Linked DNA regions of Homo sapiens. The protein of the gene in region 2 purifies or fractionates together with the protein of the main gene of each other region. This does not show direct contact. Each region holds a gene or a part of one and is shown on either strand. Other genes may lie near its edges. The genes, in order: NCBP1, KPNA3, KIF22 and NCBP3.

The links.
Region 1: the proteins of KPNA3 (region 2) and NCBP1 purify together in Homo sapiens (co-immunoprecipitation; 3 studies listed by BioGRID and IntAct, with this or other methods). This does not show direct contact.
Region 3: the proteins of KPNA3 (region 2) and KIF22 purify together in Homo sapiens (affinity purification with mass spectrometry; 4 studies listed by BioGRID and IntAct, with this or other methods). This does not show direct contact.
Region 4: the proteins of KPNA3 (region 2) and NCBP3 purify together in Homo sapiens (co-immunoprecipitation; 2 studies listed by IntAct, with this or other methods). This does not show direct contact.

Annotation. Positions count from the first base shown.
Region 1 is NC_000009.12:97,643,622-97,651,034, forward strand, and holds part of NCBP1 (nuclear cap-binding protein subunit 1), read left to right. Parts: intron 1-1,495; coding exon 1,496-1,603; intron 1,604-1,989; coding exon 1,990-2,111; intron 2,112-3,870; coding exon 3,871-3,940; intron 3,941-4,386; coding exon 4,387-4,602; intron 4,603-6,881; coding exon 6,882-6,979; intron 6,980-7,413. UniProt on the Homo sapiens protein: Component of the cap-binding complex (CBC), which binds cotranscriptionally to the 5'-cap of pre-mRNAs and is involved in various processes such as pre-mRNA splicing, translation regulation, nonsense-mediated mRNA decay, RNA-mediated gene silencing (RNAi) by microRNAs (miRNAs) and mRNA export.
Region 2 is NC_000013.11:49,719,464-49,726,876, forward strand, and holds part of KPNA3 (importin subunit alpha-4), read right to left. Parts: intron 6,039-7,413; coding exon 5,953-6,038; intron 3,101-5,952; coding exon 3,014-3,100; intron 2,662-3,013; coding exon 2,492-2,661; intron 357-2,491; coding exon 312-356; intron 1-311. UniProt on the Homo sapiens protein: Functions in nuclear protein import as an adapter protein for nuclear receptor KPNB1. Binds specifically and directly to substrates containing either a simple or bipartite NLS motif.
Region 3 is NC_000016.10:29,786,436-29,793,882, reverse strand, and holds the start of KIF22 (kinesin-like protein KIF22), read right to left. Parts: upstream 3,133-7,447; 5' UTR 3,124-3,132; coding exon 3,054-3,123; intron 2,916-3,053; exon of another isoform or gene 2,662-2,915; intron 1,418-2,661; exon of another isoform or gene 1,369-1,417; intron 1-1,368. UniProt on the Homo sapiens protein: Kinesin family member that is involved in spindle formation and the movements of chromosomes during mitosis and meiosis. Binds to microtubules and to DNA. Plays a role in congression of laterally attached chromosomes in NDC80-depleted cells.
Region 4 is NC_000017.11:3,836,119-3,843,531, forward strand, and holds part of NCBP3 (nuclear cap-binding protein subunit 3), read right to left. Parts: intron 7,034-7,413; coding exon 6,968-7,033; intron 4,088-6,967; coding exon 3,982-4,087; intron 1-3,981. UniProt on the Homo sapiens protein: Associates with NCBP1/CBP80 to form an alternative cap-binding complex (CBC) which plays a key role in mRNA export. NCBP3 serves as adapter protein linking the capped RNAs (m7GpppG-capped RNA) to NCBP1/CBP80.

The DNA.
Region 1 (7,413 bases), on a different chromosome or scaffold from region 2:
TCATACCTCCTTTTTTCTGCCCTCTCCCCAGCTCATACAGTGGCCACTGTGTACTGAATAACCCATCTAGAAAGCTGAGCATTAATTTTTGTCTTCCCTTTGCCCTCTCGTACCATAGGTGTTCCCAATCCCTGTCAATTCTGTCTCCCTAATTTCTCTCAAGTCTGTCCTTTCTTAGTCTCCAGGGCCTCTAGCATAGTTTATGCCTTCCTCCAGATGTTCTTAATAGCCTCTTAACTGATCTTTTTGCATCTAGATTCTCTGCTTTTCACTTTGTGTTCTACAGTGGCACCAGACTGGTCTTTCTATAACTAGGCTCTGCACATGTTGGTTACTGGTTAAAAAAACCTTAGTTCCTTCCCATTGTCTACAGTGAGTGGTCTTAAAAGCCTGGTGCACAAGATGATTCCTTGGGTTTCAGGAAGTGAATATTAAGAACTCTTATTTATCTTAAGTGGAAATGAAATTAAACCTTACTAATAATACATAGATTAATGGTGATCCAGTGTATATCATAAATACATATGTATGTGTTGAAGATATGTGATCAAATTCTTTTTTACTGAGTACACAATCAAAAAAGTTTGGACACCCATCAGGCTATAGGATTAAAGTCCAGACTCTTTAGCCTGACCCTTTATGGTTTCCCCAGTCTGTTTCTCTATTCTTGTCTCCCATATGCTCCCCAGCAATATCAAAATAACTTGCAGATCCCTAAACACACCTTGTTTTTGAACCTCTATGCCTAGACTGCCCTCCTTGCTCACTACTTGAGGCTGTTGCTATCCTTTATGACCTAGCCTAATTGTTACCTCCTTTGTGATGCTTTCCCCAACTCCCTTTGTCATTGTTCCTAAAAAATGCTTAATTTGCCTTTTAGTGTGGGAGTCATTCCTTTGTATTGAGATTGTGCTTGTTCCACTAGAATGGGTCCCCTAACAGTGACTTTTAGTAGTGTTTAGCAATAGCACACTAAGCACACCCAATAAATATGTGTTCTGTAATTTCCATTTCTGTAATTCAGTGAAAATTACAGCCAAACAGAAAAGGAGATTATAGGTTGAAGTAGCTAGAATATTTTACAATCTGGATTCTTGATGTAGTATAGCATAGAAACGTATGAACTCACAGATTACTGTCCTTTATATAGTCTTTGTTACAACTTCTCAATTCTGCCATTGTAGCACAAAAGCAACCATAGACAATATGTAACTGAATGAGCGTGGCTATTCCACTAAGTTTACTTATGGGCACTGAAACTTGAATTTCATGTAATTTGTATATGTCATAAAATACTCTTGATTTTTTTTTCACGCATTTAAAAATGTAAAAACCATTTTTAGTTCCCAGCTATGCAAAAAACAGGTAGTAGGCTAGATTCAGCCCTTAGGCTATAGTTTTTTAGACCAATAGTTTAGCCTATACAAGATTGCTTATTTTGTAGTTATTATAAAGAACATTTAGGTTTAATAGCAGAAATTGTTTGCCCCAACAGGTCCGTTTTTTATCTGATCTTGTGAATTGTCATGTGATTGCCGCCCCATCAATGGTTGCTATGTTTGAAAATTTTGTAAGCGTAACTCAGGAAGAAGATGTACCTCAGGTAAGAGAACCCCTCATGCTGAATCTTGAGGGGTTCTTGAGGGGTTACTGAATCCTGGTACTTCCATATAGTACCAGGAATTTTTCGCTGATAACCCATTAGCAATAAAGAAAAAAATAACAGCAGACTATCACACTTTAAGTTCTTACTATCTAAAAATTAAGCTGACTGGCACACTGGTGGGTTCTCATAATATCTGTATGTTGATTTAAATGATGCTGTCTAGTAAGATTAGAACTAATATATCTAGAAATGCTCTGTATAAACCAGATGTCTTATTTAAGTCCTATTAAATAGCTTCCATAGGATTTCATTCAAGAATAAATAAAATATGAATGAATATAATTAAAGCATATTTTAAACTTAACTTTTTAAAAATCCTTTAGGTGCGACGAGATTGGTATGTGTATGCATTTCTGTCATCTTTGCCCTGGGTTGGAAAGGAGTTGTACGAAAAGAAAGATGCAGAGATGGACCGCATCTTTGCCAACACTGAAAGCTATCTTAAGTAAGGGCACAGCTCATAGTACTCTTTGTTGCTTAGGTAAAGGATATCTTATATCAGTGATACCATTTGAGTTTCTCAAAAATAAGCTGTAGAGTTCCTGAAGGTATTTTCTAGGTAATCCTGTTCTCCTGCTGTTTTAACTCACTGAGACCTCAAAGTAGTCAGATATGGTTTGCTTACTTTTGCCAGTGCAAAGGACAGTTGGCAATATAGCTTCTTTTAAGCTGCTTTTATATGTTTGTTTATAAAAGACATAAAACACCCTAGTGCAATAGTTCCTCAAATATTAGTGTGGATAAGAATTACCTGTGGTACTTAAAATACTCAGACCCCAACCCCCAGACCTGATAAATTATACAATTTGAGAGAGAGGTTTGGACATCTGTATTATTAACACATTTCACAAGTGGAGAACCACTGTCCTAGCACATACAGTATATTTAGTTCATGTAAATTAATCTTAAATCAAGCTCTTAAAACAGTGGTCCTTAACCCTCCATCCAGCCAGTACTTCTTAAGTAATATGACACATTTCAATTAAAATAGTCACATGTCTTCCCATTACTCATCTCTCCTAAGCCAATGTAAAAGCTTGGTTTATATTGTTAGATACAATAATAATAAATAGGTCTTTTTAGTAAATTTATGCTTAACTATCCAGCAACATGGTAATGGTTATGTGGCCCTTAGGTTTTTACAGATTGATTTTGTTGTTAAGTTTCATTTTCTCTTTTTTAAGTGCTTTTTTTGGATAACTGTTAATAGCTACTTAGTTGGTTATTAAGTAAAGTTAAAAGAAGCTTAAAAAATAAGAATCTTTTGGCCGGGCGCAGTGGCTCACGCCTGTAATCCCAGCACTTTAGGAGGCCAAGGCAGGTGGATCACCCGAGGTCAGGAGTTTGAGACCAGCCTGGCCAACATGGTGAAAACCCATCTCTACTAAAAAATACAAAAATTAGCCGAGCGTGGTGGTGGGTGCCTGTAATCCCAGCTACTCGGGAGGCTGAGGCAGGAGAATTGCTTGAACCCAGGAGACGGAGGTTGCAGTGAGCCGACATGGTGCCGCCACTGCACTCCAGCCTGGGCAACAGAGTGAGACTCCGTCTCAAAAAAAAAAAAAAAAAAAAAAAGAATCGTGTGTGTGTGTATACATATCCTTTCTCTTTTTTATTCAAATGATAGCCCAATATACACACTGTTCTTCACTTGGCTTTTTTTTTTTTTCTTACTATAACTTGGATTTGTTGCATAAAAATACTTAACTCTACTTCATTCTTTTTAACAGTTGTAGGGTATTTCACTTTTTAATGTACCATGATTTCCGTAGTCTCCTGTTGGTGGACGTTTAGGTTATTTTCAATCTTTTGCTCTTATAAACAATGTTTCAGTGAATATCTTTGTGTATATGTTTTTATGTACATGTGCAAATATATTTATGGGGGATATAAATTTTTAGAAATGGCATTGCCGAGTTGAGGGTTCTAAACAATTTTGATAGATTTAGTCAAATTACCTTCCAAAGAGATTATACTTTCCCAAAGAGATTATATCAGTTAACCTCTTTGTCAACAATGTTTGAGACTGAATCTTGACCTGCATCTTGATGATACACAGTACATTATCAAAACAGTTGATATCTGCCACTCCAGTAGGTAAAATGTTATTTCATTGCTTTAATTTGCATTTTAATAACTGTGAGGGTGACTGAGCATCTCTTGTTTTTAAAAGCCTAAATGTAGATTTTCATTTTTATCTTTAGAAGACGCCAAAAGACTCATGTACCCATGTTACAGGTATGGACTGCTGATAAACCACATCCACAAGAAGAGGTAAATGGATTTCAGTCCCTTGTGATACAAACACAGTCAGCTCTTGAATAGATTCTTATCTCTGTAAGATACTCAGACCATTCCATTTTACCCTTTGACTGTGTTTCTACATTTCATGATAGTTCCTTCTCATAGCTCAAGGTGTATGGTAGGTCTTTAATAGATGATAGAATGTAATTGAAATATTCCCTTGTTCTTTGGAATGCCAGCTATTACAGAGTTGACATATATTTATTTAAATGCTTAATTTGAAAAATGTCAAAACAGACAGTTCCAAACAGGTAGACTTTGTAAGTAAAATAAAAACAAAAACTTAGCACCTTTTTTTGTACCATCTTACAAGTTAGCTTACTTTTGTATCCTGTATTTTAAAGGGTAGTGATTTTTTCATTTTGTCTAGTCAAAATGTTAATTATATTAATGATTAAAAATTAATCTGTCTTTAGTATTTAGATTGCCTGTGGGCCCAGATTCAGAAATTGAAAAAGGATCGCTGGCAGGAACGGCACATCCTAAGACCTTATCTTGCCTTTGACAGCATCCTGTGTGAAGCACTGCAGCACAATCTGCCTCCTTTTACACCACCTCCTCACACTGAAGATTCAGTGTACCCAATGCCAAGGGTCATCTTCAGAATGTTTGATTACACAGATGATCCCGAGGTAAGTGACCGACTAAAAGTCCTAGATATTGACCTGTGTTGCATTGTGCTTGTGGGTTAATCCCGCTTGAATTATGCCTGTGGTATGTTTTAATTTTGAGTTGTTTTTATCTAAGAAGGTCAGTAGCAATGAAGTTAACTTTTTAATTCAGTGAATGATATCACCTCATTATGCAAGAAATTATATTTGGCATGTGTAAATAGATTACAGAGACGTGCACAGTTTGCAGGCTAAGAGTGTGGGTTTTGGGTTTTTAGAGCTACGTTGGTTTGTGTTTTAATCTTGGTTTAGCCAAATACTAGCTGTGTTAATTTGGGAAGGTTATTTACCTCCCTGTGCTTTCATTTCCTGAAGGTAATAATAATAGTATACATCTCATAATAGTAGTATATATCTCATGTTATGAGGATTAAATTATTCACATGTAAAATGCATAGAACAAGAACAGTGTCTGTCACATGATGAATGCTCAGTCATTCTGGCAATTTTTCTTTCTTATTTTTTTCTTTTCGAAATGGGGTCTTACTTTGTTGCCCAGGCTGCAGGTGAGATCTAAGCTCACTGCAACCTCTGCCTCCTGTGCTCAAGCGATCCTTCCACTTCAGCCTCCTGAGTAGCTGGGACCACAGGCATGTGTCACCTAGCCTGGCAAATTTTTTGTAGAGTTGAGATTTCGCCATGTTGCCCTGGTTGGTCTCAAACTCCTGGGCTCAAGCAATTCGTCCGCTTCGTTTTCCCAAAGTGTTGGGCTTACAGGCATGAGCCACTGCACCTGTCCATAATTATACTTAATAAGGTTATTTCTCAGTAAAAGTACCTAGTTTTAGGTATGGTCCCTCTCTAGGCAACACAGCCTGTCTTGTGATTATTCATATTGTATGATTATTTGAAAACAAATGTTGGAAGTATTTTTAATTAAAAAATTCCAAAGATTAGTCTAAGCTGACTTTATCATTTTTAATATACATGTTCTTTATTTCAAAGTCAAGTTTCCTGGCAGCCATTGTACTGTTATAATTGTATATTGTACAATTAAGAAAATTTATAATTTTCATTGTGGGTACTATCCTGTGTATTGTAAGATGCTCAGCGGTGTCCCTGATCTCTACCCTCTAAATGTCAATAGCACTCTCCCTGCCTCAGTTTTGACAACCAAAAATATCTCCAGAGAGTGCAATATGTCCCCTCAAGAGCAAAATTGCCCCCAGTTGAAAACTATTGCCATAAAAATTAATATTACCACCTAAGTCAAATTTGAGTTTCTTCTATTGTCTCTTTTCTGTTCTATGGTAAAGTGCTAATGACCAGTAGGAATTTAGTATATATGTAATCTATTTTGGAATAAAAATTTCTCAGATAATCAGTTACATATACAAAATTATCAGCTTGCTGCCGTCTTTGCTATATTCCATATGTAACCAAATACTTTAGTCAAAATTATGTAATGATCTACTTAGATATGTCTAACTGAAAATCTGGTTTACATTTAAGACTGCTAATGTTTGTGGTCGGGTATTTTTTTTTTTTTGTGCAGGGGAAACTAGAATGGGACCTCAAAATTTGTTTCTCCTGAATTTGTATTTAATTGGTATCACCTCTGTAAGGTGCATATCCATCCCTTGCTAGAAGAGTATAAATATATAAAATACATATTACTCCCAAAACGAACAGGATTTTGTTTCTGTTCTGGCCTTTTACAAGTTGTTTATTAAAAAACATTAGAAATTGTAAAAAAAAGATTAGAATCATCCAAAAGTCATTATTAAAGGTTTATTTTGTGTGTTTTGAACCTGTTTGCTATGAATATACTTAAGAATAAAATAATGCCATGTAGGGAATATGTTTTGAGCTTAGACAGTATATTATGGGCATTTTTCAATTCATGCATGACTTTTTATGGCTATGTGGTGTTTGAATAGAATTTTCTCTCTGCATAGTTATTAATGGAAATAATTCACTCTCGGTTTAAAAAATAAACTCTGTAAGACTTGTATTATCCAAAATTATTTAGTTTCATATAATAATTGGTGTGTAAAGTAGGCAGTGGTTGTATGGTTAGGTATGAGATGTGGTAGAAAAAACACTACAGCTGATACTCTGGGGTATAAGTGAACATGACAATGGAATTTCCTGAAATATAGAGCTTTAACACTTCAGAACTTTTATCCCCATCACCCAGTTTAGTGCTTGGAACATAATAGTCTCTCAAATATTTGTTGAATAAGTAAAAGAAATCTGTTTTCTAGGCCTGTAGTGTACACATTTGGTTTTCTTTCCAGGGTCCTGTCATGCCAGGGAGTCATTCAGTGGAAAGATTTGTAATAGAAGAGAATCTTCACTGCATCATTAAGTCCCACTGGAAGGAAAGGAAGACTTGGTAAGATTCTTTTCATGGTACTTTTAGAAGGGAGAGAAGCAGCAATTTTGATAATTCAGTAAGAGCAAAATATATGTTGAGAGTGTAAGAAAATTTTATCCTCCTGACTCCCTGTCTTGCTAAAATCAATTTCTAAAAACACTTGCTTTACTTTCTCAAGGCTCTTCACCCTTGTATAGTACTTTTCGAGGTGCTTTATAGTAATAAGCGTATGATGCCAGTGTGTTTGGTGTGGATATTTAGTATATGCTATGGAGAGCTTGAATGGCAAGTTATTTTGGGTTTGGATACCAATAGTTTTGCTCTGTTTTCTAGCATTTAGACACCCAAGCTTTGGAATTTTTTTTTTTAAATAAAATTTTCTTAAACTTTGGGAAGTTTGGTTTAGATTTTAAGGTGGAAATGAATATAGTATTATGAGAGTGATCTACTCT
Region 2 (7,413 bases):
TTTTTAAAAAGTAAGGTGTTTCATGAGGTTTTACCGCTTTACAAATATTAAGGTTTAAAAACACTACTTAATAATGACAGAAATAAACTACATATGCAGTAATTTCTCAAAAGTGAGCATTTTTGCTGTCTGGCTGTTACTGCTTACAGATTTAAGCTATAAACCTAATTTAAGCTTAATCCTATTTCTGAAAACTGTAAATACGTTGTAGAAACTTGACAAGTTGATAAAATGTATGCTGACACTTACATAAAAACCCTTTCTGTCCCATCAAGAGCAAAATCCCACATTTAAGCTGCTTCTTAACTTACGTTTATATCTGTATGGTATATGAGGACACATAAAGCTGGCAAAATCTGAGGAAAGAAAATAAACAATACTTAACATTAGTTAATTAATATGTCTGTAAAAATGAACAACTTTGACATAAAAAGCGGTAAATATGGTTTGTAGGGCGAGAAAGACAATGTTAAATTTGTCTGAATATCTTTTAGGAAAATGAAAACCTGATAAATTCAATCTAAAAAAACCAAAAACATATCTCAAATGTTAAACTGAAATATGTTCAATTAACAAGTTAAAATATCCAAATAAATCTGGCAGAAGTTAATGTACCTTAAAATAAAAACATTTGTTTTTAATAACCTTCTTTATGGCATAAAATGTCAAGTGGAAAAAATGGAGATGCAAATATACAGTTACAGCTATTTAAGAAAAGCTACACTTAAAACTGCCGTAATTGTCTCACTTACCTGCTTAACGTAAAAATACGATTTTACTTAATAAGCTACTTAAGTCAAATTAAAGTTTTCAACTTCACCTTTAGTCAAGAAAATTCGAACCAGTACAAAGTACAAAGCTTTGCTTGTTAAATTCAGGCCCCAGAGATCTCTTTTTAAAATATGGGAGAAAGGGAGCAGGGGGTTGTAGGAAATCACACAAAATACCTTTGCATAGCAACAAAAAGTAGCAGGTACTAGAGAAAGATGTCCATTATAAAGATACACAGTTGGCCAAGTGTGGTGGCTCATGCTTGTAATCCCACCACTTTGGGAGGGTGAGGTGGGTGGACTGCTTGATGCCAGGAGTTCAAGACCAGCTGGCCAACATGGTGAAAACCCATTTCTACTAAAAATACAAAAATTAGCCTGGCATGGTGGCACATGCCTGAGACATGAGAATCGCTTGAACCCCGGATGTGGAGGCTGCAGTGGGCAAAGATTGTGCCACTGCACTCCAGCCTGGGAAACAGAGCGAGACTGTCTCAAAAAAAAAAAAAAAAAAAAGAGATAACACAGTCAACAGTGAATAAAGGTTATGTAGGATTTTTTTTTAAAATGCAAAGCACAAGGATCTATTTACATATCAAATGTAAATAAAAAAGTTTTTACTTTGTTTTAATTAGTAGATTTAACAAAAAATATGTCACACTTTTAAGAACTCCAATTTTGTCAGTAATAAATTGGAGTTAGGCCGTGGGGGCAGTGGCTCACACCTGTAATCCCAGCACTTTGGGATACTGAGGTGAGCAGATCACTTCAGGTCAGGAGTTTGAGACCAGCCTGGCCTACACAGTGAAACCCCATCTCTACTAAAAATACAAAAACTAGCCGGGTGTGGTGGCGCTGGCCTGTAATCCCAGCTACTCAGGAGGCTGAGGCACGAGACTCGCTTGAACCCAGGAGGCAGAGGCTGCAGTGAGCTGAGATCATGCCACTGCACTCCAGCCTGGGCAATAGAACAAGACTGTCTCAAAAGAAGAAGAAGAAGAAAAAAAATCAATTGGACTTAAAGCAAACTCATTCAAGAACATTTGCATGTAAGTATACTAGTTTTGCCTGTAGCAACCCCCTTTTATAGCTTTAAACCAACAATGCAATACAGTAATAAAACTTTGAGATTGTTTTCCTTTTGTATTTTTCTCTCTGAATTTTTATATTTTCTTTTTATGCAGATAATCAAAAAAATAGGCATTAGGATGAACTGACATTCTTTCAGGTACAGTAAGACACTCAACTTTTATTTCATAGGAGTAATTAAATATGGTACGTTACTTTTAAAATCTTACACCTGTGGCTGGGCGTGGTGGCTCAGGCCTGTCATCCCAGCACTTTGGGAGGCCGAGGCGGGCAGATCACGAGGTCAGGAGGTCGAGACCATCCTGGCTAACATGGTGAAACCCCGTCTGTACTAAAAATACAAAAAAATTAGCCAGGCGTGGTGGCGGGTGCCTGTAGTCCCAGCTACTCAGGAGGCTGAGGCAGGAGAATGGCGTGAACCCAGGAAGTGGAGCTTGCCGTGAGCCAAGATCGCGCCACTGCACTCCAGCCTGGGCGACAGAGCAAGACTCCGTTATCAAACAAACAAACAAACAAAAAACTCACACCTGCAATGAAATCAGTATATGTATTATTTTGTCCCCTGTATATGAATTCCTGAAGTACAAACATAGGGAAAATATACCATCTGGCCTTTACAATTCTTCATTTACCTCCTGAACTGTCTCCATAGGCGGCGGGGGATCCTTATTCCTGCAGAGATTGACAATGACCCATGTGACGTTCCGAAGGAAGGTGATGGGGATGGAGGGACTGATGAAGGACAGAAGAGGTTTGACAACTCCCAGTGATATGACATAATCTCTACATTGAGGACCATCACCTACAGAAATGAAAATTATATTTAAAAAAAACTTACATTCAGGATGAGAAAGTCTGAAATGTATGCAATGGCTCATGTGGGAACACTGACGTTCTATGTTTCCTCACCATTAGTCAAAGGCATCAAGTGTTGTTTCTCCAGATTTTGATCTGGGGAACGTAAATTTAACCTACCAATGCTAACAGCAAACTGTATATCCTTTTCAAAGAGCATCATCTTAAGTCAGTACTTATGAGGCAAGAAGAGAGTCAACACACATTAAATTCAGAGGAAACATAGTATGTAATGGCTATGCCAATGTAGGAAAAAAGTTAATTTAGATTCTTAAGAGGATTCCTTTCAAACCACTTACCTATAATGTTTCCCAAAGCCCATACTGCTTGTTCACAAACATTCTGATGTGGTGAACGAAGAAGTCTCAGAAAAAGAGGTACTGCATCTGTAATAAAGAAAAACTAATATTTATACTAGCAACATGTTGAAGAGTTTACAGATTTCAGATCAAAGAAATTGATCAAATACACAGCCTGGCATATTGTAGCTGGAAGAACAAATGTGGCAAATATCTTTACCCTAAAAAGAATCAATTTCAGTATTTTCCCCTAGTAATAGTCAAGTACCGTAACCAACTGGCAGTATCTAAAGGTTGCTATCATACCATTAACTAAAAGAAAGCAACAGCATGAAATCCTTCCTATAATCCATTAAAAAAAAAAAAAAAAAAAAAAGAGTTCCTACCCCAAACATGTAACCTTAAAATGTAATGCTTTAGTCTACAAAATCTCAATTCCTGATACGGGGATTAACCAAAGAACTGATTAATCTCATATCAGGTCTATCTTATACTTTAAAATAATTTCTCATAATCCTTACTCTTTACAGAATGTATACATTATACCCATTTCCAGCATAAGCTAGATCACTTTTTAAAAATTTCAATCAACTGTGCACTACCTCATTTTTTTTTTTTTGCTGTATCTGTGTATTACTTGTATTATTTACTTAAAATTTAAATTAATTCAGTTTTAACAACTTTACGGAGATATAATTACAATAAATTTACATTTAAGTGTGTAATTCAATGACATTTCATATTTATACAGAGTTGTGAGGACATCGCCACAATCTAATTTTATAACATTTCCAGGACCTCAAAAGAAATCTTGGCTGGGTATGATGGCTCATGCCTGTAATCCTAACACTCTGGGAGGCCGAGGCAGATGGATCACCAGGTCAGGAGTTCAAGACCAGCCTGGCCAAGATGGTGAAACCCTGTCTCTACTAAAAATATAAAAATTAGCCGGGCGTGGTGGTGGGCGCCTGTAATCCCAGCTACTTTGGAGGCTGAGGCAGAGAACTGCTTGAACCAGGGAGACGGAGGTTGCAGTGAGCCAAGATCGTGCCACTGCACTCCAGCCTGGGTGACAGAGCAAGACTCTGTCTCAAAAAAAAAAAATATCATACTCAGCCGGGCACAGTGGCTCACACCTATAATCTCAGCACTTTGGGAAGCGAGGCGGGCAGATCACGAGGTCAAGAGGTTGAGACCATCCTGGCCAACATAGTGAAACCCCGTCTCTACTAAAAATACAAAAATTAGCTGGACATGGTGGTGTGTGCCTGTAGTCCCAGCTACTTGGGAGGGTGAGGCAGGAGAATTGCTTGAACCCAGGAGACGGAAGTTGCAGTGAGCTGAGATCACGCCACTGCACTCCAGCCTGGCGACAGAGCGAGACTCCGTCTTAAAAAAAAAAAAAAAAGAAAAGAAAAAAGAAAAAAGAAATCTCATACTTAAGGCAGTCATTCCACATTTGTTCCTCTGCCACACATTCCCCAAGCGGCAGGCAACCATTAAATATCTGCTTTCTGTCTTTACAGATTTGCCTATTCTGGACATTTCATACAAATGAAATCATACTGTGTTTTTTGGGGGGTCTGACTTCACTTAACATTCTTCAGGTTCATCCATGTGGTAACAGGTATTGGTACTTCATTCTTTTTTACTGCTGAATTGTATTCCATTGTATACACCACATTCACTTTATCCACTCCTCGGTTAATGAACATTTGGGTTAGTTATGAATAACATTGCTGTGAATATTTATGTACAAGTGTTTGTATGAATATGTTTTCATATCTCTTGGTTTCACCTAGGAGTAGAACTGCTGGGTCACATGATAACTTTTTTTTTTTTTTTGAGGTGGAGTCTCGCTTTGTCACCCAGGCTGGAGTGCAGCGGCACGATCTCGGCTCACTGCAAGCTCCGCCTCCCGGGTTCACGCCATTCTCCCGCCTCAGCCTCCCAAGCAGCTGGGACTACAGGCGCCCGCCACCATGCCCGGCTAATTTTGTTTTTGTATTTTTAGTAGAGACAGGGTTTCACCATGTTAGCAAGGATGGTCTTGATCTCCTGACCTCGTGATCCACCCGCCTCGGCCTCCCAAAGTGCTGGGATTACAGGCTTGAGCCACTGCACCCAGCCTTTGTTTTTGAGATAGGGTCTCACTCTGTCGCCGGGGCTGGAATGCAGTGTGCAGTCTCGGCTCACTGCAACCTCTGCCTCCCTGGCTCAAGCGATCCTCTCGCCTCTGTCTCCTGAGTAGGTGCGACTATAGGCATGCGCCACCATGCAATGCTAATTTTTAAATATTTTGTAGAGACACGATTTTGTCATGTCACCTAGGCTGTTCTTGAACTCCTGAACTCAAGTGATCTGCTTGCCTTAGCCTCCCAAAGTGCTGGGATTAGAGGCATGAGCCACCTGTGGGTCTGGTGAGAATAGTATTCTCAATACATGATTCAATGTAACTTACTGCCATATCACATGCTACTTAAAATCACCTTGATTACCACACCTAAAATTAGCTAAGTGTCCCATACTATAATAACGTACGTGGTGATATCTAGTACTTTTCTAAAGAGCTTGTGTCAGTGTCATTTAACAATAATTATTAGCCCATCTTGAGGAAAGTAAAATTTAAAATATGTCATAAGCTAAAAGGCAGAAGCCATTCAGCATCTTGAAGATATCAGAAACGGAATTTAAAATCCTGTTATCACAGCATGATGTCTACTCCAAAAGATAAAACTCTACTCTTCTTTTAATAACCACAATTAAAAATTTTTCATGATAAATTAATGACGGCTATGAAAAAGATATCGGTCATCAAAAGTAACTTATAAAAGTCATCATTTAAAAAATGTTACAAGATAAAATTTCTTTATTACAAAACTCTACTTCCTTGCCATCATTAAAACACAAAAAGTTCAGACAGTAAGGAATTTACTTACTAGACTGCACAACAGCTTGAGTCTGTGCAGAAGTTCCTGATGCTATGTTAGTTAATGCCCAAGCAGCTTCAAACTGTAATGAAGGACTGTAAAAAAACAATAACACATCTTTTTAGACACATAACTACCACTTAAATTAATGAATCTTAAGACTGATAAGATATGGCTATTCTTTGCCTTGTCCTTGAATTTCACCTTGTTATAATCCAATTGCCTGCTAGCCAACCCTACTTTTTTTTTTTTTTTGAGATGGAGTCTCCCTCCATCACCCAGGCGGGAGTGCAGTGGCGCCATCTTGACTCATTGCAATCTCTGCCTCTGGGGTTCAAGTGATTCTCGTCTCCACCTCCCAAGTAGCTGGGATTACAGGTGCACATCACCACACCTGGCTCATTTTTGTACTTTTAGTAGAGATAGGGTTTCACTATGTTGGCCAGGCTGGTCCTGAACCCCTGACTTCAGGTGATCTGCCCACCTCGGCTTCCCAAAGTGCTGGGATTATAGGCATGAGCCACTGCACCCAGCAGCCATCTCTACTTAAAAAATCTCTTTGGCTCCCAAAGCCAGTCACTATGAACCTGCTTCTTTATGTCCACTGGTATTACAACATTTAGCCAGTCATTATTTCCCTTGACTTCGACTTCCTCTCCACAGACACATCTAATCAATATATCATGTCGATTTTACCTCTTAAACATTTCTTACATTTATATAATCACCCCTAATATCAAGTGCTAGTTGAGGCCCTCATCATCTCACTTTAACCACTATCACACGCTCTAGGCTGGTCTTAAAGCTAGAACCCCATCTGTCTCCATTACACCATCTGCTTTACATACTAGGGATATTACAAGGCTGTATAATTTTGTTGAAAAAACAAGATCATTATATTTTCGAATAGTAATGGAAGACCTCACAAAGAAAGTGACAACTGAACTAGCTTTTCAAAGATGGATTTAAAAAGAAAGGCAGTGACAGTGGGAAATAAAACAGGTATCATGCATGGAAGGATCATGATGTGTAGGAACGACAAGGATTAGATCAAGAGAGCTGAAACTAACTAAGAAGCAAGTAACAGGGTGTTTGTGCATGTGTGTGTGTGTTTCAGGATGGGAGTGAGGAGTGTATTCTACAGATATGCTAAGGATGGGGCATTGAAAAAGGGAGGAAAGAAAATAATGTTCAAATCAATGGTATGCAGAATGGCTAAAAAAGGTTAAAGGCTGATATAGGAGAGACCTATTAAAAGACATGTTGGGGCTTACACCTGTAGTCCCAGCACTTTGGGAGGCTGAGGCAGGCAGATCGCTTGAGCCAAAAAGTTCGAAACCAGCCTGGGCAACACGGTGAGACCCCATTTTTACAAAAAATAAAAAAATCAGCCAGATGTGGTGGTACACACCTGTAGTCCCAGCTACTTGGGATGCTGGGCGGGGGTGGGATGGGGGGATTGCTTGAGCC
Region 3 (7,447 bases), on a different chromosome or scaffold from region 2:
CACACTTTTCCCTTCATTTCCATGCCCCCCACCTTCCTGGTTGTCTTACCTAGTTTTCTGTTCACTCCTCATCCTAGGATCCGTCTATCCTTTCTCTAGACCAGCATTTCTCAACTTCAGCACTACTGACATTTCGGGCTGGCTAATTCCGTTGTGGGGCTGTCCTGTGCATTTAGACTGTTAGCATATGCTTACTAGATGCCAGTAGCATTCTCCACCCTCACCCTCAAGTTGTAACAACTAAAAATCTCTCCAGACATCTCCAAATGTCCTGTGAGGGACAAAGTTGCCCCGAGCTGAGACCACTCAGATTCATTTCATAGGCAGGTCACCCGCCCTCTTGGCTTCAGTAACATCTTACAGCTGATAAGTCCTATTGCACGTTCTGCACAAGAGCTCTCAACTGCAGCCCACGTTCTGAACGGCTGCCCTGACGGCTCCTTTTTTTTGAGACAGAATCTCACTGTCGCCAGGCTGGAGTGCAGTGGCGCTCTTGGCTCACTGCAATCTCCGCCTCCCGGTTCAAGCGATTCTCCTGCCTCAGCCTCCCGAATAGCTGGGACTACAGGTGCACGCCACCACGCCCAGCTAATTTTTGATTAATTTTAGAGACAGGGTTTCACCATGTTGGCCAAGATGGTCTCGATCTCTTGACCTCGTGATCCACCCACCTTGGTCTCCCAAAATGCTGGGATTACAGGCGTGAGCCCAGCCGACGGCTCCTCTTAAACTCCACCTGTCCTAAACTGAACCCTCCTTCCCCATCTCTCTGCAGCCTCCTCCTTTGATCTCTGATGTAAATGAATGGCACCAACCCCAAAAGTGGGAGTCTTTAACTCCAACGTCTCTTACCTCCCACATCAGTTCATCATTAACATCTGTCAAGTCTATCTCTTTAAATCTCTCTTGAACAAGTCCACTTCTCTCCACTCCCACTGCACTACCTCTGCCCAAGGTCATGGTCTTTACAGCCTTCCTTGCTGGTGGTAGCAAGGTGTCTCCCTGCCCTCTAGTCATTCCCTCTGTTTCCTTCCTTGCAGTGTAAGTTACCAGTCATGATGAATTTCCTTCACTTCCTACAAAACTCCAAGTTCTCTTGCACCTTTGGATTTTTGTCCACGTTAATCTCTCTCCCTAGAATATCTGCATTGCTCCCCACCCCACCCTGGAGTGACTAAGGTAAACACATTTTAACTCCTCTTAAAAAACAAAACCAAAAACCCTTTCCTGGTAGACACTAAGGCTTTATCAGGTGCAACCACAGCTCATGTTAGCCCCTCCATAAGCATTTGTCACACCCCACTATTGCGTGTTTGTCACTTTCTCCACCTGACTGCCAACTGTGAGAACAAGTTTTATCCTGCTCACCTTTCTAACCCCAACACCTGGCGCAGAGTAGGCCCTCAAGAAGTATTTGCTGAAAAAAATTAAGATTTAGTGAATAAACTACTAATCACTGGCTTGTTCATTTCCATCATGAAAATGGCTCACGGCCATTCCTGCCCCAGGGCTCACAGTCCAGGGTAGGAGGGAAGAGGGGAGGGCCACATGTAAACAATTATTTACTGCACAAGAGTCTAGCCCTTTCATGATAAAAGCAACCTTGAGCTTGGACCAGGCTAGCAATTATTAATTTTCCCTTCTTTCACAATTCCTAAATTTCATTCACTCTTCTCCCTTTTATTGATGAGGAAATTGAGCTAAGAGAGCATCTTACATCATAAATAAGAAAACACTTGCTGTTCTTGTCTTCTTAGTCAAGGCCTGGCAAACTCCTATCCAACCTTTGAAACCCATCTCAAGTATCATTCACTCCCTTAATGAAGTCCTCCCAGAATACTCAAGGGCTTACTTCAGATTCCACACCCTCAGTTTATACACATCTCTCATTGTGTTTCGTATTACATCTACGTATGTGACACTCTATTGAAACAGACTGTAAATTCCTCGAGGAAGGGACATTATTCATTCAGGCATTTTCATATCTACCATGCACCGGACACAGTGCATCTTCGAAGGGTAAGGGGAGACTGTGCTCAGCCAGCAGGGATAACATGTACTTGGGCATAATGGTTAAGAGCAGAGGTTCTACACTCAGACTCCTTGAGAGCGAATTCAAGCCCCAATATTTACTAGTTGTGTTAACTCTGAACAAACTAACCTCAGTTTCCTGTGTAAAACAAAGACAGTAATAGTAACAACCTGATAGCATTGTGTGGACAATAAATGGTTCACCACCATAAAATGCCTACAACTGTGCCTGGCACATAGCAAGAGCTCTACATGTGTTAGGCATTCTCCTAAATGTCTGTTTCCCCACGAGGCTAACGAGGGCTCCAGTGAATTACTATGGCGCTCACCATCATCACTAACGAGGATTAAGTCTCCGGGTTAGAGAGGCACATGTAAACAAATACTCACATACAAGATTTTGGGTGTCCTAACAGCCTTTCCAACCCTAAAATAGCATTCACTTCCATGCTAGAGTGAAAGGAAATTTTAGTCTTTTATTTCGTTTTCCTGTAATCGCAGAGCATCTTACGCTGCCAACTCAAACCCAGCAGCAGCCGGGTCTGTTCCTCAGCCCGTCCTCTTGCATCTCTCAGGGATGTCTCTGCACCCAAACACCATGTCCCACACAGAACCCTTCCCAATACACGCCTCCGGCTCCCTTCTTCTCGTCCTCGTGGCTAGAGCGTCCGCCACTCTTCTCTTGCTTATTCAGGTGATCTCCAGGGATGAGGCCATGACCCCCGTTTCACAGACGAAGAAACCGAAGCTCACAAAGAAAAAGTGCGCGGGGTTCAAGCCAAGAGCCTGGACCGGAGACCCGAGTCTACTGACCCAAGGGGAGAGCAGGAAACAGGGAGAAGGCAGGAGCCAGGCGGGGCGACCGGCTCGCGACCCCACACTCTCACCGTCCCCCTCTCCCCGCCCCTGCGCCATGGCCGCCTCTCCGCGACAACCCGCAGAGCCTGGACCACACTCCGACACATAACTCCCACTAAACTCCAGACGTCGGTACCCGCCTTGCCCAGGCCGGGCTCAAGTACCTGAGATCGCCGCCGCTGAAGCTGCCGCCATCTCGCGTCGCCTCTGCTGCGTCGAGCCGCCCGCGGCCATTCCACTCCCTCCTTGGGCCCGCCTCTCCCATTCGAATTCCCCGGTGCCCCGCCCCCTCTCCCAGGTTCCACCAATCAAGACTACGCGCCGCCGGAAGCTGCTGCGTGTGGGTCGCCACTATCCCGCCTTCCAGCGCTCGCCTCCGGGTCCCCAAGAAAAGGTTCCCCTGGTCAGGACGCATGCGCGCGCGTGGGCCGCGCAGCCGTTGATGTCTGGAAGCGCGCTGCGATACAAACCCCTACGCAGGGATGTTGGCGACGGTGGCCGCTGGGGGAGCTGCTCAGCGCCGCCCGGCACTGGGCTCCCTTTCCCTTTACTTTCTGCAGTTTCTTGCCTCCGTGGGTGGTTGGCGCGTCTGCGGAGCCAGGGTCGTTGTGTGGATCGTGGGACTGCAGCCCCAGCCAAAGGGCTATCACGTCTGGTCGGTTCTGTAGATCTGGGCCCCAGGGGCTGGACTCTGGGCAGTCACGTTGCAGTCGCTGCCTGCTGGGCCCAAGGCCACTGTAGGTCCCCTCGCGTCCGTGTCAGCCCAGGAGAGCAGCTTGGATGTTCCTGTCTTTATAACTTGGCACTCAGCACGTCGGCGAAGCGTGGAAAACGCTTAGTCTGTGATTCAGTCCCACTCACCCACGGTTCCGGTTCCCAGTCCTTAAGAGTACAGCAGTCCGTTGAGTAGCTCTCTGTCCTTTCTGAAGGGTTGGCTAGGGACGGTCATTCCACTTTTGAGCACCAGGTAGGTAGGGCCCAGGTTTAGACATTATGTTCCACCCTGTTGAACAACAAAACAAAACACGGGCCGGGCGCGGTGGCTCAGTCCTGTAATCCCAGCACTTTGGGAGGCTGAGGCGGGAGGCTCACCTGAGGTGAGGAGCTCGAGACCAGCCTGGCCAACATGGCGAAACCCCGTCTCTACTAAAAACACAAAAATTAGCCGGGGATGGTGGCACGCCTGTAGTCCTAGCTACTCGGGAGGCTGAGGCAGGAGAATCGCTTGAACCCGGGAGGTGTAGGTTGCAATGAGCCGAGATGGTGCCACCGCACTCCAGCCACGGCGCCAGAGTGAGACTCCGTCTCAAAACAAAAAACACAAATCTTAGATCAGTGTTTCTGAAACGTTTTGCCTTGGGATCCCACTACAGTTTTTAAAAATGAGGCCTCCAAAGATGTTTTGTGTATATGAGGGTTTTTGTTTTTTTGTTTTTGAGACGGGGTTTCACTTCCATCTCCCAGGCTAGAGTGCAGTGGCTCAATCTCGGTTCACTCCAACCTCTGCCTCTTGGGTTCAAGTGATTCTCCTGCCTCAGCCTCCCGAGTAGCTGGGATTACAGGTGTGCACCACCACGCTCAGCTAATTTTTGTATTTTTATGGAGACAGGGTTTCACCATGTTGGCCAGGCTGGTCTCAAACTCCTGACCTCAAGTGATCCACCCGCCTTGGCCTCCCAAAGTGCTGGGATTACAGGTGTGAACCACCAGGCCTGGCCGTATATACTGTGTGTGAAGTGAAACTAAATTAAAGTTGACATTAATGAATTTAAAAATTACAGTAAAAAACCCATAGACATAAAAAGGACATCTAAGTAGTGGTTGCCAGGGGATGGTGAGGGGCTGAGGAGCTGGCACTACAGCAATAGATATAACGAGTTTCTTTTGGGGGTGATGGAAATATTAAATATTTTGGAATGAAGTAGTGATGATGGCTGCGTAACGTAATAAACATACTAAAAACCAGAGAGGTGTGCACTTTTTTTTTTTGAGACATAGTCTCTCTCTGTTGCTCAGGCTGGAGTGCAGTGGCGCAATCTCAGCTCACCGTAACCTCCGCCTCCTGGGTTCAAGCAATTCTCCTGCCTCAGCCTCCCGAGTAGCTGGGATTACAGGCATGCACCACCGTGCATGGCTGATTTTGTGTTTTTAGTAGAGACGGGGTTTCTCCATGTTGGTCAGGCTGGTCTTGAACTCATGACCTCAGGTGATCCATCCGCCTCGGCCTCCCAAAGTGCTGGGATTACAGACGTGAGCTACCAAGCCCTGCCTAGACCTCCATCTCTTTTTTTTTTTGAGACGGAGTCTCGCTCTGTGGCCCAGGCCGGAGTGCAGTGGCGCCATCTCGGCTCACTGCAAGCTCCACCTCCCGGGTTCACGCCACTCTTCTGCCTCAGCCTCCCGAGTAGCTGGGACTACAGGCACCTGCCACCACGCCCGGCTAATTTTTTGTATTTTTAGTAGAGACGGGGTTTCACCGTGTTAGCCAGGATGGTCTTGATATCCTGACCTCGTGATCCACCCGCCTCGGCCTCCCAAAGTGCTGGGATTACAGGCGTGAGCCACTGTGCCTGGCCTACCTCCATCTCTTAAAAAATAAAATTAGCCAGGCATGGTGGCACACACCTATATTCCCAGCTACTTGGGAGGCTGAGGTGGGAGGATTGCTTAAGCCCAGGAGTTTGAGGCTGCAGTGAGCCGTGATGGTGCCACTGCACTCTGGCTTCAGTGACAGAGGGAGACCTTGTCTCAAAGACACACAAAAAAACTAGATTCTCATATCTGCTTCTGCATTCATGCTGTTGTGATGTCACATATAATATAGTATTTTGAATACTCCACTATATACTTGAGAAACAATGCAAGAGAAGTCAATTGGTATCTTAGTTTTATTATGAAAATAGTTTTGAACTTGTAGACCCACTGAAAGTGTCTCAGGGACTCCCAGAAGTCTCTGGACCATACTTTGAGAACATCTGACATTGGCAATTGGCAGTTTGGTCTTCCTTGCCTGTCAGAAAAGGCTGTTCAGTTTTCACATTTGTTGTCAACTCCAGATATTTGGTAAGAAACCTGCCAGAAATAGTGAAAAGAGCATAGATCAAGGAGATAGGGCTTCTATGTTTGAATAAACCATTTAGGTACAGGGCCTTGGTGCCAGGCTGCCCAGACCAGAGATTTAGCCTCTTTGTGCCTCCATTTCCTCAGATATTAAAAGGGAATAATGGTTGAAATACCTCCTAGGGTTGTTTTAAGGATCTGCATCTGGCTGGTAGAAATTAGGGTGGTTTGGCCAGGCGTGGTGGCTCATGCCTGTAATCTCAACACTTTGGGAGGCTGAGGCGGGCAGATCACCTGAAGTCAGGAGTTTGACACTAGCCTGGCCAACATGGGGAAACCCTGTCTCTACTAAAGACACAAAAATTACCCCGGCGTGGTGGCACACACCTGTAATCCCAGCTATTCAGGAGGCTGAGGCAGGAGAATCACTTGAACACAGGAGTTGGAGGTTGCAGTGAGCTGAGATTGCACCACTGCACTCCAGCCTGAGGGACAGAGCAAGACTCCATCTGAAAGAAAAAAAATTAGCCAGATGTGGTGGCATGTGCCTATAGTCCCAGCTACTTGGGAGACTGAGGCAGGAGGATCGCTTGAACCCAGGAAGTGGAGGTTGCAGTGAGCTGAGGTCATGCCTGTGCACTCCTGCTGGGATGACAGAGAAAGAAACAATTGATTTTTAAAAAATAACTTCCAGGCCGGGTGCAGTGGCTCACGCCTGTAATCTCAGCACTTTGGGAGGCTGAGGCAGGCAGATCATGAGGTCAGGAGATCGAGGCCATCCTGACTAACACGGTGAAACCCCGTCTCTACTAAAAATACAAAAAACTAGCTGGGCGTGGTGGCGGGTGCCTGTAGTTCCAGCTACTCGGAAGGCTGAGGCAGGAGAATGGCGTTAACTCGGGAGGCAGAGCTTGCAGTGAGCCGAGATGGCACCACTGCACTCCAGCCTGGGTGACAGTTGGAGACTCCTCAAAAAAAGGCTGCTCACGATGGCTCACGCCTGTAATCCCAGCACTTTAGGAGGCCGAGATGGGCGGATCACAAGGTCAGGAGATTGAGACCATCCTGGCTAACACGGTGAAACCCCGTCTCTACTAAAAATACAAAAAATTAGCCAGGTGTGGGGCGGGCGCCTGTAGTCCCAGCTACTCGGGAGGCTGAGGCAGAAGGATGGCGTGAACCCAGGAGGCGGAGCTTGCAGTGAGCCGAGATGGCGCCACTGCACTCCAGCCTGGGCGACAGAGTGAGACTCTGTCTCAAAAAAAAAAAAAAAAAAAAAAATTCCAAACTATGTCTTTAAAAGAAGCAAAGGAGGTCAGATGTAGTGGCTCATTCCTGTAATCCCAGCACTTTGGGAGGCTAAGGTGGGAGGATAGCTTGGGTCTAGGAGTCCAAGACCAGTCTGGGCAACCTAGTGAGACCCTTCTCTACAAAACATTTTAAAATTAGCCAAGTGTGGTGGCGCATGCCTGTACTCCCAGCTACTTGGGAAGTTGAG
Region 4 (7,413 bases), on a different chromosome or scaffold from region 2:
TTATTGTTGTTGGTATTAATAACAAATAACTTGAACTTGACGCCTAGTGTGGATGCAGGAGTCAACATGGTTATTCCAATTTCCTCACTTGCCCAAGAAGCTAGGTCACTTAAATGACGGCTGGGAAGATGGAGAATACCAGATGATGATAATAAGCCACATTAACTGGGCACCTGCCATGTGCCAAGCGCCACTCTATGGACTGTAACATTTTGTTAGAGTCTCCCAGCAGCCCTATAAGAATTCCTGTCATTGGCCGGGCGCAGTGGCTCACGCCTGTAATCCCAGCACTTTGGGAGGCTGAGGCGGGTGGATCACAAGGTCAGGAGTTCAAGACCAGCCTGGCTAACATGGTGAAACCCCGTCTCTACTAAAAATATAAAAATTGGCTGGCCGTGGTGGCAGGTGCCTGTAATCCCAGCTACTCAGGAAGCTGAGGCAGGAGAATCATTTGAACCCAGGAGGCGGAGGTTATAGTGAGCCAAGATTGCGCCACTGCACTCCAGCCTAGGCAACAGAGTGAGACTCCGTCTCTCAAAAAAAAAAAAAAAAAAAAGAATTCCTGTCATCTGCCTTTCCAGATAAGGAAACTGAGATTTTTAGAGGCTAAATAACTTGCCCGAGGCCATAGAGCTAGAAAGTAACAGATTAAGATTTGAATCCAGGTAACTAGGCTTCAGAGCTCATGCTCATAACCATGAAACCAATGGTCCTCAATCCTGTCTGCACATTAAAAGTACCTGAAAAGATGGCCTGGCGCAATGGCTCACACCTACAACGCCAGCGCTTTGGGAGGCCGAGGCGGGTGGATCACAAGGTCAGGAGATCGAGACCACCCTGGTCAACATGGTGAAAACTCGTCTCTATTAAATACAAAAAATTAGTTGGGCATGGTGGTGTGCGTCTGTAGTCCCAGCTACTCGGGAGGCTGAGGCAGGGGAATCACTTGAATCTGGGAGGCAGAGGTTGCAGTCAGCTGAGATCGTGCCACTGCACTCCAGCCTGGGTGACAGAGCAAGACTCCTTCTCAAAAAAAAAATAAAAAATAAAAATAAATAAATAAAAATTACCTGAGAAGATATAAAAAGAATAACTATCAGCCGGGCGCAGTGGCTCACACCTGTAATCCCAGCACTTTGGGAGGCCGAGGCGGGTGGATCACAAGGTCAGGAGTTCAAGACCAGCCTGGCCAAGATGGTGAAACCCCATCTCTACTAAAACTACAAAAATTAGCTGGGCACGGTGGCAGGTGCCTGTAATCCTAGCTACTCAGGAGGCTGAAGCAGGAGAATCGCTTGAACCCGGGCGGCAGAGGTTGCAGTGAGCCGAGATCGCGCCACTGCACTCCAGCCTGGGCTACAGAAAGAGAGGAAAAAAAAAATGCTGGGCAGTGGCCAAGGTGGGTGGATCACGAGGTCAGGAGGTCAGGAGCTTGAAACCCTGTCTCTACTAAAAAATACAAAAAATTAGCTGGGTGTGGTGGCATGCACCTGTAGTCCCAGCTACTCGGGAGGCTGGGGCAGGAGAATCGCTTGAACCCAGGAAGTGGAGGTTGCAGTGAGCCGAGATTGCGCCACTGCACTCCAGCCTGGGTGACAGAGCAAGCCTCTGTCTCAAAAAAAAAAAAAAAAAGAAAAGAAAACCAGTAACTATCCCTGGGACCTATCCAACTCCAACTAATATAAAGTGGTCTGAGATGGGCAGCAGGGTTCCCCAGGGCTCAGGAACACTATCCTAGGCCATGCTGCCTCCTGGACAAAGAATCGACTGAAATAAGCAAGCTTCCCCAGCTGACATCCCACGGCCGACCTTACTGCCTTTTTTAGGAATATCTTTAGAACCGTGAGACTGGAGTTGTACGTTAAAAAAAAAAATTTTTTTAAATTAAAAGTTAACCCCAAAAGTGATCCTATTAAGGTAAGTATCATATTTCCATTTTACAGACAAGGAGACTGAAACTAACAAGGCTCAAGAACTTGTCCTCAGTCACAAAGGAACTGAGACTAGATTCTACGAGGCTTTTGCGCCCTAAAGAGCTCCAACAGATGTGAGAAAACACTTCAAGTGGGTGAGCAGAGATGCTCCACGGGGGAAGTGACACCTGACCAGAGATAAAGCATGGGACAAGGAAGGGCAAATGCACAGAATGAAAGGCATGAGCCGTATCAGAGGCAAGCCGCCTCAAGGAATGCTCTCGGGACCAGAGGTCGACAGGTGTGATAAAGCTATGACGCCCTCGCGGTAGAGTTGTGAGAGAGACTCACAGGTATGCTTGCGCCCGGCTGTGCAGGCACATGAAGGTCAAGCCACACCTGGCCTTCACAGGACTTCTCCTCAAACAGAAACCCCGCCCATGAGGGAAGCAAGGGCGTGTTTCTGACTTGAACTGGTCATGCAGGATAAAGAGTGAAGCAGCTTCCAGAGTTCAGCTCTGCATCCACACTGCTGGGCCCATTAGGACTGACTGAGGAGGGACGCAATATCAGTCGATAGCACCACATCCTACATTACACAGCAACAGAGCAAAGGAGTTAAGGGCAAGGCTCTAGAGTCAAAGAAACTGGGTGTGAATCCTGACTCCACCTTTACTAGCTACATGACCCTGGGCAATTTATTAAACTTCTTTGAGCCTGCTTCCTCTTTATAAAATAGGGATAAAAATAAATTCCTCATACAGTTGTTGTGAGCAACAAAAAAGAAAGAAATATATAATGTGCTTAACGAGTCTAGTAAAAAAGCAAGTTCACAACAAATAGCAGCTATTCTTTCATTCATTCAATATATTTACAGAGCTTTTGCTTTTATCAACCAAACAAGGCTAGAGAAGCTCATACAATACAGCACAGGCCTTTAACATGCATTCAGAAGGCTGCCTACTAAACCCTTTATGAACACCCAAATTTGCAAATAACACAGAGGGAAGCCTTCTGCATTCATGGATTTATATTATAGTAGAATAATAAATAAGAACATAGACTCACTAAAAAAGTAGTAATTTTTCCTTTTATTTATAAATTGCTTTAGAAAACTGCGGCAGATTACTATATACAATAATTCGGGGTGAGTTCTAGGGAGCAAAATACCCCAAAAAAACACAAAGATCAAATCAAATCACAAGTCCAACTGTAAGCGCAGGCTTAAAACTCAGGGCAGGATTAGTTTAGCTTTCTCTGACAACAGGATGTTACTGAGTGGTTTACATATATCAGATATTCAGATTATCAATAGATTCAGAATTTTTTTTTTTAAGACAGAGTCTCGCTCTGTCGCCCAGGCTGGAGTGCAGTGGTGCAATCTCGGATCACGGCAACCTCTGCCTCCCAGGTTCAAGCGATTCTCACGCCTCAGCCTCCCGAGTAGCTGAGATTACAGGCGCCAGCCATCACTCCCAGCTGATTTTTGTAGTTTTAGTAGAGATGGGGTTTCACCATGTTGGCCAGGTTGGTCTCAAACTCCTGACCTCAAGTGATCCACCTGCCTTGGCCTCCCAAAGTGCTGGGATTACAGGCATGAGCCACCACACCTGGCCAATAGATTCAGATTATCAACAAAAGTGTTAATGGCTTTTCCCCACCAATCTCAAAATTGCTCTAACTCCCCGAAAAGAAGGTCTCACTGTGATACACTTTCACTACGTTTAAAGGCAAAGAAAAGTTAACACCTCTACGATAAAAGGAGAAAATGAGTAAGGGTCCTTAGAAGCACAGGTTCGAATCTCAGCTCTGCCACTAACTGGTAACTTTTTCTGGGCCTCCTCAGAAAAGACAATCTCTTATTTCCCAGCTCTAACATCTGAGCCAGCTGACAGCATCTGAACTTTAAACAGGTGACCTCAGAAATGGAGACTTCACAGGTCCCTTCTCACAAGAGTGCTTGGATAAGGAGTGGACACGCAAGGCAAGGCCAGAAGCATGAGGTGATGGCAGGGAAAAGGCACTCTCTGGGGAAATGTGGACAAATTTCCCACAAAACACCCTGTACCTTTCTTCATCATGTCTCGGTCCAAGGCTACATTTCTTTGGGCAAGATTTACTTCCGATCGAAAATGGAAGCGCTTGGCTCGCTGCTCTTTCTTTTCAATTGCTTCCTAGAAAGTACAGAAAAAGTGAAAGTAGTAAAATATGGAGAAGGCGAGTTAAATCACACATGCATCATGATGCATCAGTGACAAACCTGAACTAAAAAAGAAGAAATAAGCAACACTACACCTTGAATCAGTCTGGCAGAGACCTGGATATTCACACTCAATGACTGGGGGGATATGTTAATATCGCTGTAATTTGCAACCATCTCCGACATAACACAGCCTATCACTGTGCCTGGGACATAGTAGGAACTCAGTGAGTATCTGCTGACTGAATGAATAGTCCTTTAAAGTTTATAAAGTTATATGACACTTCATTTGTTATTATCAATTATGCCAACAAATTACAACTAAACAATTTCAACATCCCAATTTTCCAGGTGCAGAAATGGAGGCACAAAAAAGCAAAAAGGTTTGCTGGAGATACTTCAGCTATTAAGCAAGCAGATCTGATTCCAGTGCTATTTCTAGGAGCCCACCTACAACCACTTCACATTGTCTGAGCAATGGTAATCACACCTATCACGCTCTTCCACATTATAACTGCCTGAGCAGTCCACTCCCTAAAGCTAGTCTGTTTAAAAATAACACCGAAGCAAAGAAACTCTCCCTCCTCTTCCAGCCTCGTGTCCACGGAATCACCAGTTTTCATCTCTAAGTGATAAGAACCATTGACACTTTACTGAAAAAATAATCAGCTTTGTAAGTTTCTTCTAAGAGCTAAAATAAACCCAGGTCCAACTGTGGGTTTCTGATGGCTCTTAGGAACCCTTCACTAATTGGTTTTGTTTGTTTTTGTTTTTGAGACGGACTCTCACTCTGTCGCCAGGCTGCCACGATCTCAGCTCACAGCAACCTCCGCCTCCCGGGTTCAAGAGATTCTCCTGCCTTAGCCTCCTGAGTAGCTGGGACTGCAGGTGCACACCACCACGCCCAGCTAATTTTTGTATTTTTAGTAGAGACGGGGTTTCACCATGTTGGCCAGGATGGTCTCGATCTCTTGACCTCGTGATCTGCCTGCCTCGGCCTCCCAAAGTGCCAGGATTACAGATGTGAGCCACCGCGCCCAGTCCCCTTCACTAATTGTATATTGACTTTGCCACACTAATTGAAGGTCTGACTACAGAGAGCTTGTGGGGATTGGTAAAGTTGCAACACTTCTGTTCTTTCCCAATAGTTAACGCTCATTTTCTTCACTGAAGTCTTCCTAGTACAAACAACAATTTACCTTCCTTTAGAAACAAAGTACTAACTCTGAGACTATCACCCTTTTCCCATATACCTGTGTCATATAATGGCAAACAGTGTAAGATTATGAATAGTTTACTTTTTCAATTACAGTAAGAAAAGATTTTCACTTTATTCTCTTTTCTTGTCTAAAAGATGACCAATTCTCTCTCTTTTTTTTTTTTTTTTTTTGCGGGGATGGGGGGCCTTTAAGTGATTGGAAACACAAGAGACACAGATAAACCATAAAAAGGTTAGCTGGGCATGATAGCATCCACCTGTAGTCCCAGCTACTCGGGAGGCTGAGGCAGAGGGATCAATTGAATCCAGGAGGCAGAGGTTGCAGTGAGCCGTGATCGCACCCCTGAACTCCAGCCTGGGTGACAGAGTGAGACTCTGTCTCAAAAAAAAAAAAAAAACACTATAAAAAGGAAGGCACGAAATATATTTTTATTTTTGCTTTTATGTATTCAATACAGCAATATATACTATTATTCAGAAATGTAATACAAAATTCTGTTCCAAACTTAACTGTAAACATTAAAATCAGAAAAAATGTCTAAAACGGAACATCACTGATTAAAGCAACTTACATGTATTGACTACATATAAGGAAAATAATAGGCTTGACTCTATGAGGTGTTACAATGAAGGTGGTAATCTGGTAATAGCAATCATCAGATACAAGGCAATAGTCTTATTAAGGGCCTATTATGCCGACACGGTGGCTTACACCTGGAATCCCAGCACTTCGGGAGGCTGAGGCAGGTGGATCACCTGAAGTCAGGAATTCAAGACCAGCCTGACCAATACAATGAAACCCTGTCTCTACTAAAATTACAAAAATTAGCCAGGCGTGGTGGCGGGCGCCTGTAGTCCTACCTACTCAGGAGGCTGAGGCAGAAGAATCGCTGGAACCCAGGAGGTGGAGGCTGCAGTGAGCCGAGATCGCACCACTGCACTCCAGCCTGGGCAACGGAGCGAGACTCCACCTAAATATGGGGGGCCTACCATCTGCCAGGCACTTTTCATGTTTTGTTTCATTTCAAGTGGAAACAGTACACATTTTTTTAGAAATGGACATACCATTTAAAAAAGCATCCCCCGTCTTGGACATTTTCTTGGAAACGGTTCAACACAGGTATCTAAGTAGAGTGATTTTATCCTTTCATGGCTGTAAGAACACACAAATGCTGCCTGTACCGTTTCAGGATGCATGAAGACATCGTTGTATAACACAAAATTTTTTTTTGTTGCCCCCACTGGAGTGCAGTGGCACGATTTCAGCTCAGTGCAGCCTCAACCTCTCAGGCTCCAGCGATCCTCCCACCTCAGCCTCTTGAGTAGTTGGGACTACAGACCTGTGCTACCACACCCGACTAATTTTTGTATCTTTCGTAGAGACGGGTCTCACTATGTTGCCCAGGCTGGTCTCGAACTCCTGGGCTTAAACGATCCACTTGCTTGGCCTCTCAAAATGCTAGGATTACAGGCATGAGCCAGCGTGCCTGGCCAATAACACAATTTTTTTTAGAAAAAAAATTTAAATCCAGCAACAAAATAAAAGAGGAAATATTTACTGTTATGTCCTAGGGATCAAATTCATTAAGTTCACTTGCTTATCAAGCTGAATAAATAAATCATAGCCTGTCTTACCTTGGAGGTGACATCAATTCCAGTGATGAAGCTGCCAGCCTTGTTTTCATATCTTCTGCTCGTGTCCTAACACAAAGGGGAAGGGTGAGAAATTCAGACAGCAATTGAGGAAAAACCTATAATAAAAGTCGGCCTGACATCTGCAGGTTCTTTTTTCCTTTTTTTTTTTTTTTTGTTGGTGACAGTGTCTTGCTCTGTTGCCCAGGCCGGAGTGCAGTAGAATGATCACAGCTCACCGCAGCCTCGACTCCCCAGGCTCACGCCATCCTCCCCCTCAGCTGGGCCCTCAGGCATATGCCACCATGCCCAGCTAATTTTTTTTTTATTTTGTAGAGACAGGGTCTCCCTATGTTGCCCAGGCTGGTCACCAACTCCTGGGCTAAAGCAGTCCTCCTGCCTCAGTCTCCCAAAGTGTTAGGATCACATGTGTGAGTCATCACAACCAG